3 linked regions of the Homo sapiens genome follow. The protein of the gene in region 1 interacts with the protein of each later gene in a pairwise test. Each region holds a gene or a part of one and is shown on either strand. Other genes may lie near its edges.

Region 1 (6,926 bases):
AAGAAGACTAGCCCAAGAGTGCTCTGCTTTCAGGATTCTGCTTCCAATTGCCAGTGGGAACGATTGCTGGTTGCAAGTGGGGAGGGGTCCATCGTCAACGCCAGAGAATGGCAAACTCCTTTTGCCAGGGCCAGCCAGTACAGATTTTAGGTTTTTTGGGCTCTGCGGTCTCTGTCACAACTACTCAACTTGGAATTGTTCCTATAAATTTTATAAAATTAATCAGGGAAGAAGGGAAGGGGAGAAATGAAAATAAACCAAGCTTGCAGCACATTTGGCATTAATCATGAGGTCAGCCTGCTCTCTGTCCTGCTTCTTCATATTTGCTGCCTATTCCCCCAGAATCACACAGACCCGGTTGTAAGACTATAGTCCCCCTTAATTGTACCATAGGTAACATCTTAAGCATTGTGAGACATTAAGTTTTCCATTTGAGATATTTTTACCAGGTCTTGTATACCAGTGAAACTACTGATGCCAGCTGGTCTAGAGGAATCCAAGAGAAGCTGATTCACCAAAGAAGGCTGTTTCCAGATCATGATGATTTCATCCATCCTACCTTGACCAATCAATGATCCCAATTTTCCAGTTACTTGCCCTCTACAATCCCCTTAAAAGTCCCAGCCCAGAACTTCTCAGGGAGATGGATTTGAGGGTCCCTCCCAACTCCTTGCTTGGTTACCCTGTGATCATTAAACTCTTTCTCTGCTGCAAACCCTGTTGTCTTGGTGTATTGGTTTGTTCCAGTGCAATGGGCATATGAACTCGTTGGTCCTGTAACAAACTCTGCTGTTGTAGCATGAAAGCTGCCATAGATAATACATAAATGAACATGTGTAGCTGTATTCCAGTAAAACTTATTTATGTACACTGAAATTTTAGTTTCAGACAATTTTCATGTGTCATGAATTAAAAAAAAAATTCCCACCATTAATAATGTGAAAATGATCATTAGCTCATGGGGTGTATAAAAACACAAGGTGAACTGGAGGTGTGGTTTTGGTGTGTGTTCATCTCTTCCATGGCCCTACAAGTCTCATCATTTGCCAACCTGTTTTATATTGACGTCCTTGTCCACACTCCCACACGATGGGAAGTTGTACTTTGGATCTCACACCCCTGTGTAGTGCAACTTAGGTGCTTGTTCTCATGGAAGGTAACTCCTTATAACTACAGGGAGTGGAGATGCCTTGATACTCCCATGAGCCCATCAATGGGGTCTCCCCTCATCCTGTTCCATGGGCGTAATGACCATTCATGGATCCTAGCTTTTGGCAGGGGGCTCTGCTCCCACTCCCTGTCTTGTGTAGACCTGAGACATTGTCTTCTGTCCCTGAGTGGCTATTTAAACAGCAGCCCCTCTCCTCCTAAGGCCCAAATTCATTTTGACTGGTCCCCATTAGCCTCTTGGTATCAGATCCTGCTCACAGACCTGGCTTTTAGTTCCCTTTACATTTCTAATACCTGGAATTTCCTTTTATTGGATTTGACTTCAGTTTGGAACCAGATGATAGCTTCTGTGTCAACTCGGTCTTACTAGGTGGTCGGAGTTTGGATTTTCTAATTGGATTATAATGAAATGTGCCTATATTAGACATGGTGAGTTTATAGTTTTTCAACCATCAACACATGCCTTTGCTTATTCCCATTTCTTTTATTTTATAAACAACTGTAGGGATAAGATTTTCAAAAAAGGAACCAGAAGAAAACATTATAAAAGCAGAACCAAGAAGGCTGAAGATTTGTTTGGTCCTCTTGGTGGAAAGAACTGAAGCCTGCAACTGTTGTCTCTGCTGAATAAATGGCACAAGGGTTGCTATGGTTTGAATGTTCCCTCAGAAACTCGTGTTGAAACTTAACTGTCAATGTAATGGCATTGGGATGTGAGGTCTTTAAGAGGTGATTAGGCCATGAGAGCTCAGTCCTCCGAGTGGATTAATGCTGTTATCTCCGGAGTGGGTTAGTTATTGTGAGAGTGGTTTCCTGAGAGGCTGAGTTCAGTCCCCTTTTTCTCTCTGTCTAGGAGGCTTGCCTGCTGTCTTGTCTTCTGCCATGGAATGACGCTTGTCAGATGCCACTACGATGCTCTTGGACTTCTCATCTTCAGAAAGCTAGGAAGGTGAACAAATTTGTTCTTTTTTATTATTATTATTTGAGACAGAGTTTCTCTCTGTCGCCCAGGCTGAAATGCAGTGGCGTGATCTTGGCTCACTGCAACTTTCGTCTCCTGGGTTCAAGCAATTCTCCCACCTCAGCCTCCTGAGTAGCTGGGACTACAGGCTCATACCACCATGCAGGGCTAATTTCTGTATTTTTGTTAGAGACAGGGTTTTGCTATGTTGGCCAGGCTGGTCTGAAACTCCTGACCTCAAGTGATCTACGTGCCTCGGCCTCCCAAAGTGCTAGGATTACAGGCATGAGCCACTGCACCTGCCAACTTTTGTTCTTTATAAATTAGCTAGCCTGTAGTATTCTGTTATAGTAGAAGAAAATGGACTAAGACACAATGTTGTGGCTACTGTCAGCTCTGCTCATTCTGGATCCCTCAAGTGTGTGGCTCATGTCACACATGGGACCAGGGTCCTGGTGTTTTATTGTTCCATCCAGGGCTCTATTCTATATATAATCTATCTATCTTTCTTTCTTTCTTTTTCTTTCTTTCTTTCATCTTTCTTTCTTTTTTTTTTAGATGGAGTCTCTCTCTGTTGCCAGGCTGGAGTGCAATGGTGTGATCTTGGCTCATTGCTTTGCAACCTCCACCTCCTGGGTTCAAGTGATTCTCCTGCCTTGGCCTCCCAAGTAGCTGGGATTACAGGCACGTGCCACCATGCCTGGCTATATAATACTTCATCAGATATGGTGGTACAGAAAAGATAAGAAGTTGTGCTCTTACAACAAAAGTTTGAAATATCAGATGATCCAGTAGAGTTCTAAAAGATAGTAAAGATTAGAGGCTGTGGGTATCAAAGATGGGTATCTCTGGGGAAAGAGAAGGAAAGAAATTATATTTTCAGATAGCTATGTCTTAGAGAAGAGTATCTTCTGATGTGCAAGTTGGATTAGAGAGAATGTATAGCTAGTGGAGGGACCAGATGAGAAGCTATTTCAATGGTCCAGGACTATTCTAAAGGTATTTAATATTAACTGGGCAGTTACTATGTTCCAGGCACTGTATCAAGCACTTTACTTACATTAACTCATTTATTTCCTGTGGCAACCCTTTGAGAAAGAATTGTCATGAGTACTCTATTTTACAGATGAGGAGACTGAGGAGGAGAGTGATTTGGCAACATGCCCAAGGTCAGATGATTAATAAATGATGGAGATGAGATTTGAGTTTGTGTGACTTCAGAATCTATGCTGTTGACCATGACCCATATACTGAACTAGGTTAACAGTGTATAACCAGGTGGAGCTTCCCTATAGGAAGTTAGAAAGTAGGATCTGGAGCCCAGGAGAGATATTGGGATATTGGGTTAGAGGAAGAGGTGTGAAGTCATCCGCATGGAGATAACGGTTGAGAAAGACATGGGGAGTGATCACCACAGCTCCTTAAGTAGAGGGTGTTTTATGATTCAAAAGTAGGCAGCCATAGAGAAGGGAAGCTCCTTAGATCGATGAAGTAATCCCAGATAGGAAGAAGAGTGAAAGAGGCAGGGAACAGAGTTTTCTCTGTTGGAGAGGTTTCGTAAACTGGGACTGACTTTCATGAAATTCCGAGTCATGAAATCTCAGGGGGTGACTCAAACATTACGTTCACATTAAATGAAGGCCAACAGATTTTCCTGTTTGTGCTTGGTCCATTCTCAGAAACGTCTCTTGCCACCCTTTCTCTTCTGCTAAGTAAGGCTTAAAATTAGGAAGCATTCTTTAAAAGGCAAAAGAGGAAATAGATGAGTGAGAACACAAAGGAAACTTGGACAAGTAGAAAGTGGATGACCCAGGCTCCGTTACATATACTTGGATTCCAGCTGGGACCTAGATTTGCTGAGGACGGAAGCCAAGGAGACAGGAACATGTGGCTGCTCCCAGCTCTACTCCTTCTCTGCCTCTCAGGTGAGTGGGGCTGTGGCTTTGGGGACTTGGTTTTGCAGGGGGCAGGACAGTAGGTAGAAGAGCTGTCCTGGGTTCAAACCAGAGGTGAAGTGTCCACAGAAAAGGGAAAGATACATCCGTTCATTCACCTGTGCATCCTTCTATACATTCAATCATTCATCCACGGATCCTACAAACACTTACTGAGCACCAGATATGTGCCAGGACTGTTCTGGGTGCTGTAATTAAGAGTAACTTCTGAACTGAGGGAGTCAACTAACTACAATACAATGTGGAAATTACTGTTGTAGAGACTCATTCATGTGGTGATGAGAGTATGCAACAGGAACCCCTCACTTTGCTCTTGGAAGGGTGGGAGATGTCACTGAGGCTTCATTGGAAGTCCATCCTGCAGGATGAATGAGTTGGCTGAGTGGGAAAGGAATAGCTTATGTGCAAGTGTGAGGACATTAAAGACCATGGAGAGTTCAAGAATTAACAATAGTTCTGTTTTGACGAAGCTTAGTGTAAAGGGGTTGGAATGGTTTGTGAGAAATAATTAATGGGCTGGGCGTGGTGGCTCACGCCTGTAATCCCATCACTTTGGGAGGCCAAGGTGGGTGGATCACCTGAGGTCAGGAGTTTGAGACCAGCCTGGCCAACATGGTGAAACCCTGTCTCTACTAAAAATACAAAAATTAGCTGGGCGTGGTGATGCATGCCTGTAGTCCCAGCTACTAGGGAGGCTGAGGCAGGAGGATCGCTTGAACTTGGGAGGCGGAGGTTGCAGTGAGCCGAGATTGCACCACTGCAGCAGTCTGGCCTGGGTGATAGAGTTGAGATCCTGTCTGAAAAAAAAAAATGCCATCCTCAACATCTACCTTAAATCCTTCCCGGAACAAGGTGTGGTGTAAACAAGTAAATGAAACTGTCCTGCAAAGGTTGGACTTCAGAAGAGAAACTCTTATTAATAGACATTCAAAATACAAAACTGCAGGAAAACACATTTGTCTCTGGGGAAATAAATTTAGGCTAAAAATTAGAGGACATTCTTCATGTTTGCAGAATGAATTTTATGGTTGAGTTCCCTCACAAAACATAGAAATTGCCCAATGTAATGACAAGATTCTTTCTAGAAGGGTGAGTGAAAATGACAGCGATTTAAAGGAAGAAGACCAGGTAGGTGACATGGACCCAAACTCGTGGGCTCAAGCAATCCTCCTCTCTTGACCTCCCAAAGCACTGGGATTACAGGCATGAGCCACTGCACTCAACCAATGTTTGCTCATTTTGTATTTGAATTTGCTTCCTTTTTCTTTGCCCTTTCCATCTCTCTTTCCACCCCTATCTCATTCCCCATCCTCAGACTCGCAATGTGACCTGCGCAGGTCCCTCTGAAAATCTTAACTGGGAAAGAGAGATGGAAAGGGCAATTCTAGCAGGGAGGGGAAATGACAAAGAGGAAGGAAGCAAATTCAAATACAAAATAAGCAAACGTTGGTTGAGTGAGGTGGCTCACACCTGTAATCCCAGTGCTTTGGGAGGTCAAAGCAGGAGGAATGCTTCAGCCCAGGAGTTTGAGATCAGCCTGGGCAACATAGCAAGACCCCATTTCTACAAAAAAAGAAAAGTAAAAAATTTAAAAAGAGCAAAACTAGAATTCTATTTATTACACATTTTTATAACCTATAAACACTTCCAAATAGATGATAGAATTTAACCCTCTGAGCAGTTTTGTGACCCAGGCAGGGCAAATAGCATTGACTCCACTTTATAAATAAGATGATGAAGGGAGATCTGATGACATAAGAACTAAGTAGACAAGCTGGAAATGAAGTCCAGATCTGTGTCCTCCACAGAGCTCTTTCCATTGGCCATGGAGGTGTCAAGAATAAGGCTAACCTAGTAATAGTGACAAAATAGCTGACCTCTCTGCCACATCATCTGGTATTTCCATTCTGAACTGATTGCTGTCCAATATTTAGTAGCTCCCATTAACCTCAAGCAACCAGCAAGCACATGTTTCAACAAATGCACCGACGCATTTATATAATTCCATCAATTATTTCCAGGAACATGCTGGATTTCCTTGAGAAATGCTAATCTTGCATTCAGGTAACACTCTAGCAGGACAGAGGAAAGTATCTTGGAATTAGCATAACCTTCTTTTTCCTTAACTTCAGGTGCCCAGAATTAGATCATGGGTCATGGAACACTCTCTCATCACTGGTCCATTCAAGACCCTCTTTTATTTTAATTATATGTAACTTAACAAACATCTGTGAGCTCACTGGCCAATCCATGAACTAGAATGTTATCAACAGCATGGATCTACCCACTCCTTCCCAATCCAGTCCTGGTTCTTCTTTCAAACAACAGTAATTTGGTGTCATCTGCCAATACTTTGCATGAAAATTTGCTTTTGTTATATTTTTACATTAAGTAGAAAATTGGGCTAAGCAACCATAAGCCATGCTCTACATCTGAGGGTCTGTGATTTAATCAGCCACACCCCTTATCTCATCTTTTTCTTTCCTCTTCTTCTTCTTCTTTTTTTTTCGAGAGGGAGTCTGGCTCTGTCACCCAGGCTGGAGTGCAGTGGGGTGATCTTGGCTCACTGCAACCTCCGCCAATCAGGTTCAAGCAATTCTCGTGCCTCGGCCTCCCGAGTAGCTGGGGTTACAGGCGTATGCCACCACACCTGGCTAATTTTTGTATTTTTAGTAGAGACAAGATTTCACCATGTTAGCCAGGCTGGTCTCACCTCCAGTGATCCGCTCACCTTGGCCTTTATCTTTTTCTTTAAGCTCACCTATCCAGGCTCTCCCCTCTGCAAGTTGCCTTGCTTTACCTCCATTTTGGAGGTGGCTTTGCTTACTGGGCTTTAGATA
Region 2 (7,113 bases), on another chromosome or scaffold:
TAACTTTCAATTTCTGGCTGATTTTTATATTTCAGATTCCACCCATCAACACGGAGGCCAAGGAAAATTTAATGAGCCAAATAACTTATGGCTCTTCAAATTACAAGATCTGTGGGTTTTAAAGTGTCATTGTGACTTGAACTAGCTGTCTTTCTTTCAAACAAGACTTACTTCAAATGTGATGGTCCAGCACCTCAGTCCGGCTTGATGACTTGTGCTTTTGTTTTTCCTCTCTGCATCAGTTAGCTGGCACCTCGGGTTTTGAATTCAGTTCCCTGGACTGTAAGGGGTTGAAGATTTGATTTAACTTATATTTAAAAAGGCAATGATCCCAGAACAGCAAATAATTCCTCAAGGAGCTTATTGTGTAATAAGGAGGAGATAAACACTGTCAAGACTCGCACTGTAATCAGTGCTGCCACCGAGTACAGGTGATGTCTCTGGAGATGGAGTAAAAAACACCCCATCCTTGGTGAAGGGAAACAAAGAAGGCCCCACCGAGAAGTGGGTATTTGGTGTGAACCCTAAGGGAGGGAGAGATGGAAAGAAGGAGAGGAAAGATGCTTGCCTCATAGTGCTTGCCTCCCCTCCTCTCCACAGATGGAAAGAAGGAGAGGAGGCAAGTATTATGAGGTAGGAAACCTGGAGGTGTTAGAGCACAGCAGGTATTGGATCAAGCTGAAAAACAGACAAAATGAGGACATTCTCCACAGGTGTCCACAGACTCAGTTACACGGAAGTTTATTCTGATCAACACATTGGCCATTTTACTGAGAACTAAATGTGATTTGGTGTTGACTCCTTTCTAAACTTATAAAAATAAAACTCAGATCTTAAAAATTCCATTGTCAGCATAGGTCCTAATCTGTGGTCCGGAAAACATCTGGGCATCAGGCCCACAAGGGGGTTAATGGGCTGTGGACACTGGGGTGCAAAGGTTTTCTGAGGGGAAGAGTGGTGAGATCTGGGCTTAAAAAGATGAATCGAGATGCAGTGTGTAGGAAGCATGGGCAAGGGATGAGGAACGCCACTTTGAAAATTACTAAAACTAAAGCAAGTGACTAAGAGTGTGAATGACCCTGGCTGCAATGACTACGCCTGCTGGGCTTCGTAAGTAATTATGGGTGTCTTCTGTTTTTGTCAGTATCACAAGGGAGCTTGACTCGAGCAAGGGAATGTATTATATGACTTTTGAAAAGGGTATCTTTTAATTAAGGTTTTCTTTAATTTTTCAGTATTAAAATTAGACTCTATTTCCTGAGCACCCACAAATGGACCTGACAAAGGGAAGACACAGATGTACTGCGTGATGAGGAAAGCCTATCAGGATTAAAATATGGCTGTGAGTAACTGTGGTCCTTCTTTATACTTAAAATAGCTGCCATGTGTTATTATGAAGGCTTCTGATGGTGGTATCAAAATCCTTTGAAATAATAGACTTGCACAGATTTCCCTGGTCATCTAAAAGAAAGATGTCATTATTCAGTTAAAAGCAAACTTGCACATTTTCTAAGAATCATTTTTACCAAAAAGGGACATTTTACTGCGAGACAGACATTTAAAAATTTACATGTCTTGAGATATTTTTGTATTGTGGTAGCAAAATGATTACATTTATTTCTTTTTCTCCACCTTATAATAGCTGATGCTTCCTTCAACTTATACATGCTGTTGGAGCTTTCTAAATCGGTAAATTATTGATTAGCTGATTGCAGGTTTAAAATCAAGCAGACTCTTCCAGGGATTTCAATCAGTCCTGGGCAAAATTGTGAATTAGTCAGCATTGGTTTCTGGATCTCTTTATCCCTTTAGCAACCACCTCCTGATTGTCTCTACCCACCATCCCTCATCCCTCCCCTAGGGCTCTCCAGTGGGCCCCCTGTTCACACCACCATGCCTGTCTTCCTGTCCTGTCCAGGAGTCCCTCATTCCCAGCTAGGTCTTCCTTCAATCGCCTTTCTACTTACCACACTTTCCCCTCCTTCAGGTGGGAACGGTCCTCACAAATTCCTGCTAGCACATTAATGTGCCACTTTCCTAGGTAAAATATTGCAATTTAGTAGGAGACGTTGATACTTTGACCAAAAGCAGTTATTTTTATAGGAACTTGGGCACCACAGTGTGCTGGGAGAGGAGAGGATTACAACTCCCAATGTGCTACAGAGTTTTAAAAATTCTTTCACCTCTATTTGCTCATAATTTGGTATATCAGGAAAGGTTTGGTGATGAAGACATTGGAGTATACACATATTTATATTTTAGGAGGCTTCTCAATGCAAAGAGGGTTAACCTTTCCTTTGTACCTTGCCTTTTAATCAGTAGAGGATGGTAAAACTTCAAATTAAAACTGATTTTAAAAATCATTCTAATACTTGGCATCCTCGTGCAGAATCTGAGTCCCAGAGTCATTCCTAGGGTGACTGAAGAGGCAGATATGGCAGATAATCTGAATCAGGATGAATAAGTTATTTGCTGGAATTTCTGGAATGGTTGCCTACCACTGCAGCCCCCAAATGAATGGTTTGCTCGCTGTAAATCCTGAGTTGTGGGTGAAGCCTAGAAAGTATGAGAGTTGATCCAGGAGAGAAGGATTTGGCATTTGCCCTGTATGGAAGAGAAGGCTGGGGAAGACTACTCCTGGGGTCACAATGTTGCTCATCAAGTGGAGATCCCCGGTGGGAAGGGAGGGACTGAGCAAGGTATCACCGTCCTAGTCAGCCTGCTTGTGCTGAGGAGGTCATTCTCAAGGACTCAAAAGGTTCTCTATCTAGTTCTTACCTGAATTTTTGGATTTCACAGATCCAGAAATCCTTACATCAGTTATACAGTTAATGGTCTTTTCTCTTCTTATATTTCCTTTTTGGATTATATGGTGTTTTCCTAAAGAACTTTCTGAAAATGGCCAGGCATGGTGGCTCATGCCTGTAATCCCAGCACTTTGGGAGGCTGAGGTGGGTGGATCACCTGAGGTCAGGAGTTCAAGACCAGCCTGACCAACATGGAGAAACCCCGTCTCTACTAAAAATACAAAATTAGCTGGGCGTGGTGGTGCATGCCTGTAATCCCAGCTACTAGGGAGGCTGAGGCAGGAGAATCACTTGAACCTGGGAGGCGGAGGTTGTGGTGAGCTGAGATCGCACCATTGCACTCCACCTTGGGCAACAAGAGCGAAACTCCGTCTCAAAATAAAAAAAAAGACTTTCTGAAAATGCATACCTGTCTCGGCTTTGTTGAGAATGGACAAAGAACAGGACTCTGGCCTCATTTGGGCTGGATGGAAAAAGGGCATAGAATGAGATTCTGATAATCCTGCAAGGAGAGCAGGAATCAAAGTGAGAGGATCCTCAGTAGGATATGAAAAAGCAAGGAGTATGTCAGGGATGGCCTCAGCATCTGCTCCTCTGTCATCAGCGGGCTTTCCTTTGGCCCAGCCCTTGGAGAATTTTATATTTCATATGATTAAGTATAGTTTGAATATTTTTGGTGGACACAGATGGCCCTGGTCTGATGTGCTGAGGAGACCTGCATTGGAGGCTCTGGCCTCCCTTCCTGCCCCTCCCTTCCTGGCCCACAAGGAATTAATACCCAAGGCTAGGAGGGTGCTTAGAAACAAGCAAACCAAAACAAAACCCAGTGCATTAATATCCTCTAAATTCCTAAAGAGCTTATTTTTTTAAAATGCGGTCAAATTTTTATCCCAATCTTACTTCCAAACAAACATGAATTATAAATGAGTTTTGCAACTGTTATAGCCTTTAAAAAAATTCAAAGTGATAGAGCTGCAAAAATGATGCATTACCCGACTGGTAACTCCTTCCTCCCAGATCCTGGCTGGGATCCCCCTTATAAATTGTTTTTTAAACTGTAATTTTACAAACTTTGAAGTGTCAATATAATGCAAACTGTTATGCTATGATTACTAATGCTGTACTTGAAGGCAATGATTATAAGTTAACTGAAGGAACATTGTATTGATGCTTTAGGTCACATATTCTATTTTTATTTGGTTATTTTCATTGAGCAAAATTTATTTTGTGTCCGTGTTAATTTCCGTAGCTAATTACTGTGCTTTGTAATTTTTATTATAAATAAATTCATAATAAATATCATTTAATTTTCTATATAGTAGTAGTGTCTAATGTATATACTTTTATTTACGATGTGATTTAAGTAGATTTCGTTCAGTATCTGAAGCTTTTAACGACCTCTGTGTATACTTGTCATGTATATACTTGTATATTTATACGGTAATATACACTTGTATATTTATACAGTAATATCTACATATCTAAGTTTTTCCACCAGTAAAATTAAAATAGTGTTAGCTTGTCCTTTTCCTTCTCTTCCTCTCTACTGAATAGTCTTAAATGGTAGGAAGCCACTCTAAGGAAAACTGTCCTTTTGAAAATATGCATCGATCAATTCCTTTCTCTTGGCTTAATTCTCTAGGTGCTTCCCAGGGTCAAGTATTGAACCTGGTCTTTGTTTTCTGAGGAAAAAAGAAAAAGCAGCAGTAACTTGATAGTTTGGGAGACTGAGATACCTCCGTTCTCCCTTGGCTCAGGCAGTAGAAAGGAAAGGAGAAGCAGCATAGCTCCCTTAGTTGTGTCTTAGGTGAAGCAACACTTGGCTTTGTTTGTTTTTCTTTTTTGTATACTTTTCAAAGGGTTTTCACAGCTCTTCATCCTTATTACAGCACCATGAAAGATGCAGGCATTGCTACTTGCATTTTTACAGCTTAGTGACCTCTCCAAGGTCCCACACCCGTTTTGCAGTAGAGTGGAGCCCGGAGCCCAGAACCCAATGCTCCTGGAGAAGGTTTCTATTTTAAGCACCTTTTCTAGCCTCAGTTTCCTTGCACTGGGGCTAAAGAGATCCCTGCTTTCGTGAAGCTTGCAGTAAAGTGGCTAACATGTTTCAAGTTTAGCCACTGTGCTGACACATAGCTGAGGCTCCCTCAATGGCGCTATCGTAAGAACAATGTGAGAGTAATATTAGTGGAGCAGAGCAGGAGGAGACTTGGCAGGGGAGGCTGGGTTCAGATGTCAAGTTGACAGTACACCCTGAGGTCAATATTACTGTGCACATTTCTCATCTTCTATATTATAGTCGTATTCCCTGCCCATCCCTCCTGGCCCCAGGTGGCTCTTCTGAGAACAATCTGGTAATTTCATGCAAGAGTAAAATATCTTTCCCGATAATTATACAGAATTGAGCATCTCTGGTGAAAAAGAAAGCTGGTTTACAGATTTCTTTTTCTCTCTGAAAAATATGACTGTGAACCTAAAAAAATAAGGCTGCTATTTTATAGGTATTCCTTTCCCTTCCTTTTTCCCTGCAGATAACTCAGCCTCTCCAGAGTGCAGCCACCATGACCTCCGCAGATTGATGATGGAAGAAAAGAAAACCAGGATATCCTGTGCTCTGGCTTCCCTGGACCATGGATGGAGGACAGCCCATCCCCTCATCCCTAGTGCCCCTTGGGAACGAATCAGCAGATTCTAGCATGTCCCTGGAGCAGAAAATGACATTTGTTTTTGTGATTCTGTTGTTTATTTTCTTGGGCATTCTCATTGTCCGGTGCTTCCGGATTCTTTTGGATCCATATCGAAGCATGCCAACCTCTACCTGGGCTGATGGACTTGAAGGCCTGGAGAAAGGGCAGTTCGACCATGCCCTTGCTTAGGAGGGATGGTGTGGGATCTCCTCCTGAGGAGATGAAGTGCTTTGTGTCTTGGTGAGGATTCCCTTTATTTAGTGTTCTCAACAAATCAAATTTAAACAATATTTGGTCCCAGGACCATAATCCATTATTCCATAAATATGCAGTTGGGTTAAAGACATTTGAGGATGTTGGAAATGGACACTTATATAACTAATCCAACATAAGAAGGTTTAAATTTTTATGTTTGCTCAATGAATGAGTACTCTTAAAATTGTGTGATTGTGAAACCAAGAGCGTTAATACTGACATAGATTTGCCATCAAACAAAACACCACCTGATCTGACTAAAGAATAAAAGACTAGAAAGGATCTCATATGAATCTGGTGACAAGGCCAGGAAGAGATTTCCTTGCTCTAATTATGTCTATATTTGTTTTATTTCATGGGCACCTATCTGGGTCCTGAGCAGAATGAGGAAGATTGTGCTGAATGGACCCAAAGTAGTTTCTTGTTTTCTCCCAAAGCAGGGAGCTTTGGGAAGCAATGGAAAAGCTTAAAAGAGATGATTCTGTCCTTGGTAAATGTGAGTGAGAATAGCGTTTTGTTTTTCAAGTAAAACTTAATTCAAAGGCTACAAAGTTTTAAAAACTATTTACCAAGCCAACTACATTATATGTATTCATATTAATAACATGTGTAGAGGTAGCTATACATTACTTGAATTTACACTTTACACAAATGATTTAAAAAATAGGTTGCAAGTGCAGCTTAAAGTTTTTTTTCAATGAAAAGTTAATTGTTTAGAGGAGAAGACTTTTATAGTCTTCAGAGGAATGTGTATTTATGATTGTATATAGTCACCAAATAAAACTTTTCAAGAAACAGAAATGCTTCCTCTCTTATTTCACCAGAACTAATGCACTGAGGGTGCTACCTGGTATTAAGTGCTGAGGCTTAACATTTTTCCAAGAGAGGAGAAAAGAGTTAACAGCATGAAAGCTCATCTAATTCATCCCTCTCCCATTTCAAGAAGAGCTCCTATAAATTGTCCTGCACAGACAAAACCGATAGTTTTTAAGACCACCAAAAAGGGAGATGTGAATACCTCTTATTCCAACTTTTGTTGGAAGGAAAAGCTTGTGTCTAAACCAACCCTGCAGATAACTCAGCCTAAACCAACCCCGTTAGGCTGTATTTATAATCTATGTCTTCTAGTTTTCTCCTCAGCTAGTCATTACCTTTTTTGATTAAAAAAAGCACACTTCTTTAACCTATTAATTATAAGATTTTCTTTTTCTTTCAAATGTACTGTGTCATGTGTGTCCTCATTAATTTTTTTTTGTATTTTTGTTAGAGTCTATTCAAACCCACTCATGTATTTATGGAGCTCCTGCTTTGAGCCTGGAATTGCTAGCACTAGAAAGACAGAAAACACACAGGGCCAGTTC
Region 3 (7,113 bases), about 65 Mb from region 1:
ATTGAACTCCTTCCTTACACCACATGCAAAAATTAACTTCAGATGGATTAAAGACTTAACTGTAAAACCTAAATCTATAAAAACCCTGGAAGACAACCTAGGCAATACTATTCTGGACATAAGAACAGGCAAAGATTTCAGGACAAAGACATCAAAAGCAATTGCAACAAAAGCAAAAATTGACAAATAGGATCTAATCAACTAAAGAGCTTCTGCACAGAAAAGGAAACTATCCACAGAGTGAACAAACAACCTACACATTGTGAGAAAATATTTGCAAGCTATCCATCTGACAAAGATCTAATAGCCAGTATCTATAAGGAACTTAAGCAAATTTACAAGAAAAATCCACCCCATTAAAAAGCAGACAAAGGACACGAATAGACACTTTTCAAAGGAAGACAGGCATGCTGCCAAAAAAAACAGGAAAAAAAGCTCAACATCACTGATCATTAGAGAGGTGCAAATCGAAACCACAATGAGATACCATCTCACACCACTCAGCATGGTTATTACTAAAAAGTCAAAAAATAACAGATGCTCGGGAGGTTGCAGAGCAAAAGGAACACTTATACACTGTTAGTGGGAGTGTAAATCAGTTCAGTCATTGTGGAAGACGGTGTGGCAATTCCTCAACGTACTAAAAACAGAAATACTATTTGATTCAGCAATCCCGTTATTGGGTATATCCCCGAAGGAATAGAAATCATTCTTCCATAAAGACACATGCATGTGGCCAGGTGGGGTGGCTCACACCTGTAATCTCAGCACTTCGGGAGGCCGAGGTGGGTGGATCACCTGAGGTCAGGTGTTCGAGACAAGCCTGGCCAACATGGCGAAACCCCATCTCTACTAAAAATACAAAAATTAGCCAGGCATGGTGGCAGGCACTTGTAATCCCAGCTACTCTGGAGGCTGGGGCAGGAGAATGGCTTGAACCTGGGAGGCAGAGGATGCAGTGAGCCGAGATTGCACCACTGCACTCCAGCCTGGGCAACAAGAGCAAAACTCCGTCTCGAAAAAAAAAGAGAAAAAAAGAGACACATGCATGTGTATGTTCACTGCAGCACTATTCACAATAACAAAAGACATAGAATCAACCTGATGCCCACCAATGGTAGACCAGACAGAGAAAATGTGGTACATATACACTATGGAATATTATGCCGCCATAAAAAAGATCGAGATCATGTCCTTTGCAGGAACATGAATGGAGCTGAAGGCCATTATCCTTAGCAAACTAATGCAGGAACAGAAAACCAAATACCGCATGTTCTCACATTCTGTAGGTTGTTTGTTCACTCTGTTGATATAAGAGAGAGCTAACTGGTGAGAACATATGGATACATAGGGGGACATGACACACACTGGGGCCTAGCAGAGGGAGGAAGCTGGAAGGAGGAAGAGGATTAGGAAAAATAGTAAGTGCTAGGCTTCATACCTGGGTGACAAAATAACGTGTACAACAAATCCCCATAACACAAGCTTACCTATACAACAAACCCACATATGTACCCCTGAACTTGAAAGTTAAAAAATAATTCTAATAACTTTGGAACATAATAACCTCAGCATTCTTAGTAGATTAGTCTACACTTAAAAAGACTCAAATTTTGAACTCAGTGTTTGTCGTGGTACCTTATAGTAATTTTGAAACCATTTTCTGTAAACTGTAAAATAGACCAAATGAGTAAAAACATACTGATGCTTTTGGAAACTAGGATTCTCAGTGTGAGAGAAAGAAAATACAAATTTGGAATGTGGAAAATAAGGAAGAAAGGTGTGGTGTTAGATTTGAATCAGAGGCTTCTATTTTCAATCATAGTCACAAGTATAAACTTGTGATTTCACAAAAATCTATTTCTTAGCCAAATCCCACCACTGTTTTTATACAGCCCAAAACTAAAGATGGTTTTTACATTTTTTTCTTTTTTGAGACAGGGTCTCACTCTGTTGCCCAGGCGGGAGTGCAGTGGCACGATCTTAGCTCACTGCAGCCTCCACCTCCCAGGTTCAAGCAATTCTCCTGCCTCAGCCTCCTGAGTAGCTGGACTACAGGTGTGTGCCACCACGCCTGGCTAGGTTTTATATTTTTAGTAGAGATGGGGTTTCCCCATGTTGCCCAGGCTGGTCTCGAATTCTTGACCTCAAGCAATCTGCCCGCCTCAGCCTCCCAAAGTGCTGGGATTACAGGTGTGAGCCACTATGCCTGGCCTGTTTTTACATTTTTAATGTAAAATGTAAAAACTATAACTATTCTTGTGGTGAGAATGGAAACTCAAAGACTTGAAGACATTATCTCTTGGCCTGCAAAGACTAAAAGATTTATTATCTGTAGGAAGTTTACTAACCCCTGAACTAGACTATAAAATTGTTAGAAATATTTAAAGTAAAACAGGAGAACTTAAATGTGTTATGCCTCATTTAGTCTCAATGATTACATCACTACTAACTGGTTGGGTGTTATGTCAATTCAACATATGTAAGCAGATAGATCATCATACACACATGTGCACAGACAGCCTCAAAGAAAGATAGGAGGGTTTTCAGGCCTCAAAACTCAAACAAATCATTGGGTACTAATTCCTTCATGGTATTACCTTTGGTGCCTTTTCACCTTTTCTTTCATATTGATTTCGTTGTTGAATTTTCTCAGCAATTTCTTGGGCAATTTGACAAGTAGAATCGTATGTGGAGAACCTGCACCAAAGTCGTAAAAAGAGAAAATGTTTAAGGTTCTTTTTTTTTGAGACGGAGTCTCGCTCTGTCGCCCAGGCTGGAGTGCAGTGGCACGATCTCAGCTCACTGCAAGCTCTGCCTCCTGGGTTCGCACCATTCTCCTGCCTCAGCCTCCCCAGTAGCTGGGACTACAGGCGCCCGCTATCATGCCTGGCTAATTTTTTGTATTTTTAGTAGAGATGAGGTTTCACCGTGTTAGCCAAGATGGTCTCGATCTCCTGACCTCGTGATCCGCCCCCTCGGCCTCCCAAAGTGCTGGGATTACAGGCGTGAGCCCCTGCACCTGGCCTTAAGGTTCTTTAAAAGAAATTTTTGCATTGTCTAAGTTTGACATTTTCATTCTAGCCAAAGAATTCAAACAGAGGGGAAGAATAATAACATGACCAGTAAAAGCAACATGGACTGAGCGTTATTTACCATGTGCCAGGCACTATTTTGAAGGCTTCGTTAGTAATAACTCACTTAATCAAAACAGGAACGCTATGAAGTGGGTACCATTACCATCTCCAACTCACACATGAGAAAAGGAGGCACAAAGAGTTAGAGTGACTTGCCCAAGTGGTTCTGCCTGCTGCAAACCAAGGCCGTCTGGCCCCAGAGCCGGGGCTCTTAACAACTGTGCTGTTCTGCCAATGAGAAAGCATGTGGGGGGTCTCCGCTGCACTGGGCACTGTTCTGGGCACTGGAGAAGACGGCAGTAAACAGAATGAACACAGTCCCTCTTTCAAGGAGCTCATATTTTAAGGAAAGAAAGTCATAAAACAATTAAATACATAGTATGTCAGGTGTTGATAGGTGCTAAGAAGAAAAACGCAGCAGGATAAAGGGACAGAGAGTGATAAGGAGCTGCTACTTAGGATCAGGTGACACCGAGGCAAGGTGAAGAAGCTGGGCTTGCAGATGCCTGGGGGCGGCTCTAGGGTGCAGGAACAGCAAGTATTGTCTAGCCTAAAACCAAATGCTCCGGGGACAAAGGCCACACACCCACCTGACATCTGAGCTTGCCAGAATTCTCTCAAAACATTTAATAAGCTTCTAGTTGTCATTCAGCAGCGTTGGAGGCTTTGAAGGGTTCACGGTGAACTCCCAATAGCCCCTTATGTTTTGCTTCTCTCAGAGCATTTTTACTTTCTATCATATAGAAAATACTTAAGCAGACCGGATGCGGTGGCTCACGCTTGTAATCCCAGCACTTTGGGAGGCCGAGGCGGGCAGATCATGAGGTCAGAAGTTCGAGACCAGCCTGGCCAACATAGTGAAACCCCGTCTCAACTAAAAATACAAAAAATTAGCCAGGCATGGTGGCGGGTGCCTGTAATCCCAGCTACTTGGGAGGCTGAGGCAGGAGAATCGCTTGAACCCAGGAGGCGAAGGTTGCAGTGAGCTGAGATCACACCATTGCACTCCAGCCCGGCGACACTGTGAGACTCCATCTCAAAAAAACAAACGAACAAAAAAACGAAAATACTTAAGCATGCATACACATTTCATTTCTCCTATCAGACAGTCTGCTCCTAAAAAGCAGAGACTCTGTGGACTAACATGACCAGCATTATCTTCCAGGACCAGTCCATCACAAAATATCAGAAACTCCTGTTGCCCCTAATGTCCTAATTTTTGCTTGAGTAAACAATATATTTTTTAAAACCTTTCAATTCCCACATATCATTTGAACACTGAGGGAACTTGATAAGTGTTTTTTTTTAAATGAAGGAAAATGCGCCCATCAATTCCCTTAGGAATCTTACTAGAATAATTATAGCAATAGTAACAGCTGAGTACCTGACCTGAGCCAGGTCCTATACTAAGAGCTTTACACTGTAAACTTCATAAGGATCCTGAGAGAGGATCCTGAACCACTAACCACTATACTGTAAAGCAGCACCATTCATGTATATATCATATATATATCACACACATTCACATATATCATATATATCACTGATACATATATTCATATATATCACATACCTATCGTTTATATCATATATACTATATATTCGTATATGTCACATGTATATCATTCATATATATATATTCATGTATTTGTGTGTGTAGGGAAAAATAGCAGTGATACAAGAAAACACAGAATTAAGAAAACAGGAGGCTAATAAGGAAAATTGGGTCCTGGTCCAAACTTTGCCACATTTCACTTTTTTTTCCTCCATATTATCATGAAAAGAGGAGCCTAGGTCTGGCTCTGGGGTCCAGACCATACATATAAAAATCATCCACATATGGTAAGTTTTGCCTCCTGCCAAATGTGGGATCTAAGTGGTAAGTACGTCTGGAGTTCAGAGGTGGAAGAGATTACTGCTGACCAAGGCACTCAGATGGAGAGGGTCCATGAGGTTACATCTGGATGACCACGAAGTTAAAGCAGGTCTCTTATTCAGACAGGAGGGAGGAGCACATTCTAGACTTAGTGAAAGACAGGGCGAGCAAAGATGAATGGAAGGAAACGTGCCCGGCACATTTGGCTGCGTGGTGGCCCTGGAAGCCTGTTAAGTATAAAATGGTAGAGATGAGTAGAAGCTAGTTTCTGCAGAGCCTTGAACACCAGTCTAACAAGGTTAGACTTAAAGGAGAATTTCAGAGCCATAGAGAACACTTTTACACACAGAGAGTGGCCCTAAAGAGGTTATGAGAAATGCACACAGCTAGCACAAACTCCCAGGTGTCCTGACTCCAGTCCTTGTGTTGTTATTTTAGCCCTAAAGAGCAATAGTTCTGAAACAAGTTGGAATCACTGGGGAATCTTTAAAAAAATAACAATGCCTGGTCCCAACCTCAGCATTCTGACTCAACTGGTATGGGGTTTGTCCTGGGCGTGCGTGGGGAGCTTTAAAAGCTCTCCAAGTGATTCCAATCTGCGGTAAAGTCCGGGCGGGAACCCTTGGCCTGGGGCAATAGACAACCTCATTACACTATCAAGCACACAGGTGCCTGAAGTACTAGTTTAGAAAAAGTAATTGGGTCGGGGGGTGGCTGAGGCAGGAGAATCGCTGGAACCCGGGAGGCAGAGGTTGCAGTTTGCCGAGATTGTGCCATCGCACTCCAGCCTGGGGGACAAGAGCAAGACTTTGTCTCAAAAAAAAAAAAAAAAAAAAGTAATCTGGGCCGGGCATAGGCGTAGTGGCTCACACCTGTAATCCCAGCACTTTGGGAGGCCAAGACGGGTGATCACCTGAGGTCAGGAGTTCAAGACCAGCCTGGCCAACATGGCAAAACCCCATCTCTACTAAAAATACAAAAATTAGCCGGGCATGGTGGCGGGTGCTTGTAATCCCAGCTACTCGGGAGGCTGAGATAGGAGAATCACTTGAACTCAGGAGGCAGAGGTTGCAGTGAGCCAAGATCATGCCACTGCACTCCAGCCTGGGCGACGGAGCAAGACTCCATCTCAAAATTAAAAAAAAAAAAGGTGTGGAGGGTAGAGATGAAACAAGAATGGCAGAATATTGATAATCACAGAAATTGGGTGGTGAGTATGAAAGGGGCCCATTATACTATTCTAGTTTGTGTATCTTTTACCTTCCAAAATAAAGTTTTTAAAAAGCAATTCAACACAAAGAAGACCATGCTACCAACATAAAAAGTCCAATCAGGATATAAAACTATTAAGGTTTAACTGTAATTTTTCTGGAAATGGTACATCATCAACAAATTAGTTACCCTGGAGGTAAAGCTAATTAACATTAGCAAAGAGCCAGTTCAGAGACAGTGATCATGGGCTCCTTCTGTTAAACAGCGAGCTTACCACTTGCTTTGATAGGCCATTAAAATAGTAACTGCTATATTCCATTGCTAGACACTGAGGGAGGTGCCAATGACCTATGATTTTAGCAACACAAAGGTAAAGCTGTAGTTGAATCTGTTTTTATAGGTTGTTTTTGTTTGTTTGTTTTGTTTTGTTTTGACATGGAGTCTCGCTCTGTCGCCCAGGCTGAAGTGCAGTGGCGCAATCTCGGCTCACTGCAACCTCCACCTCCTGGGTTCAAGTGATTCTCCTGCCTCAGCCTCCTGAGTAGCTGGGATTACAGGTACACACCAACATGCCCAGCTAATTTTTGCGTTTTTAGTAGAGACGGGGTTTCACCATGTTGGTCAGGCTGGTCTCGAACTCCTGACCTTATGATCCGCCTGCCTCAGCCTCCCAAAGTGCTAGGATTACAGGTGTGAGCCACCACACCTGGCCTTTTATAGGTTTTTCAAGTCCCTTCCCATACTCCTTTCTACCCCCCTAATCAGCGACCCATTTTGTGCTTTGGGAGCACAGCTGAGTGTCTCACTGTTTCACTCTCAATAGTCCAATGAGAAAGCCACTTCATCAAACTAATGAAGTATAACAGAAAAAGTCTCAATGCTTTATCA

The links.
Region 2: the proteins of CD300E (region 1) and CTXN3 interact in binary tests that used the Homo sapiens proteins (3 or more experiments, as listed by UniProt).
Region 3: the proteins of CD300E (region 1) and STX8 interact in binary tests that used the Homo sapiens proteins (3 or more experiments, as listed by UniProt).

What each region holds. Positions count from the first base shown.
Region 1 is NC_000017.11:74,620,712-74,627,637, reverse strand, and holds the start of CD300E (CMRF35-like molecule 2 precursor), read left to right. Parts: upstream 1-3,899; 5' UTR 3,900-4,016; coding exon 4,017-4,056; intron 4,057-6,926. UniProt on the Homo sapiens protein: Probably acts as an activating receptor.
Region 2 is NC_000005.10:127,652,082-127,659,194, forward strand, and holds the end of CTXN3 (cortexin-3), read left to right. Parts: intron 1-171; exon of another isoform or gene 172-280; intron 281-968; exon of another isoform or gene 969-1,110; intron 1,111-1,235; 5' UTR 1,236-1,342; intron 1,343-5,341; 5' UTR 5,342-5,440; coding exon 5,441-5,686; 3' UTR 5,687-6,549; downstream 6,550-7,113.
Region 3 is NC_000017.11:9,565,771-9,572,883, forward strand, and holds part of STX8 (syntaxin-8), read right to left. Parts: intron 4,168-7,113; exon of another isoform or gene 3,786-4,167; coding exon of another isoform or gene 3,728-3,785; intron 2,701-3,727; coding exon 2,601-2,700; intron 1-2,600. UniProt on the Homo sapiens protein: Vesicle trafficking protein that functions in the early secretory pathway, possibly by mediating retrograde transport from cis-Golgi membranes to the ER.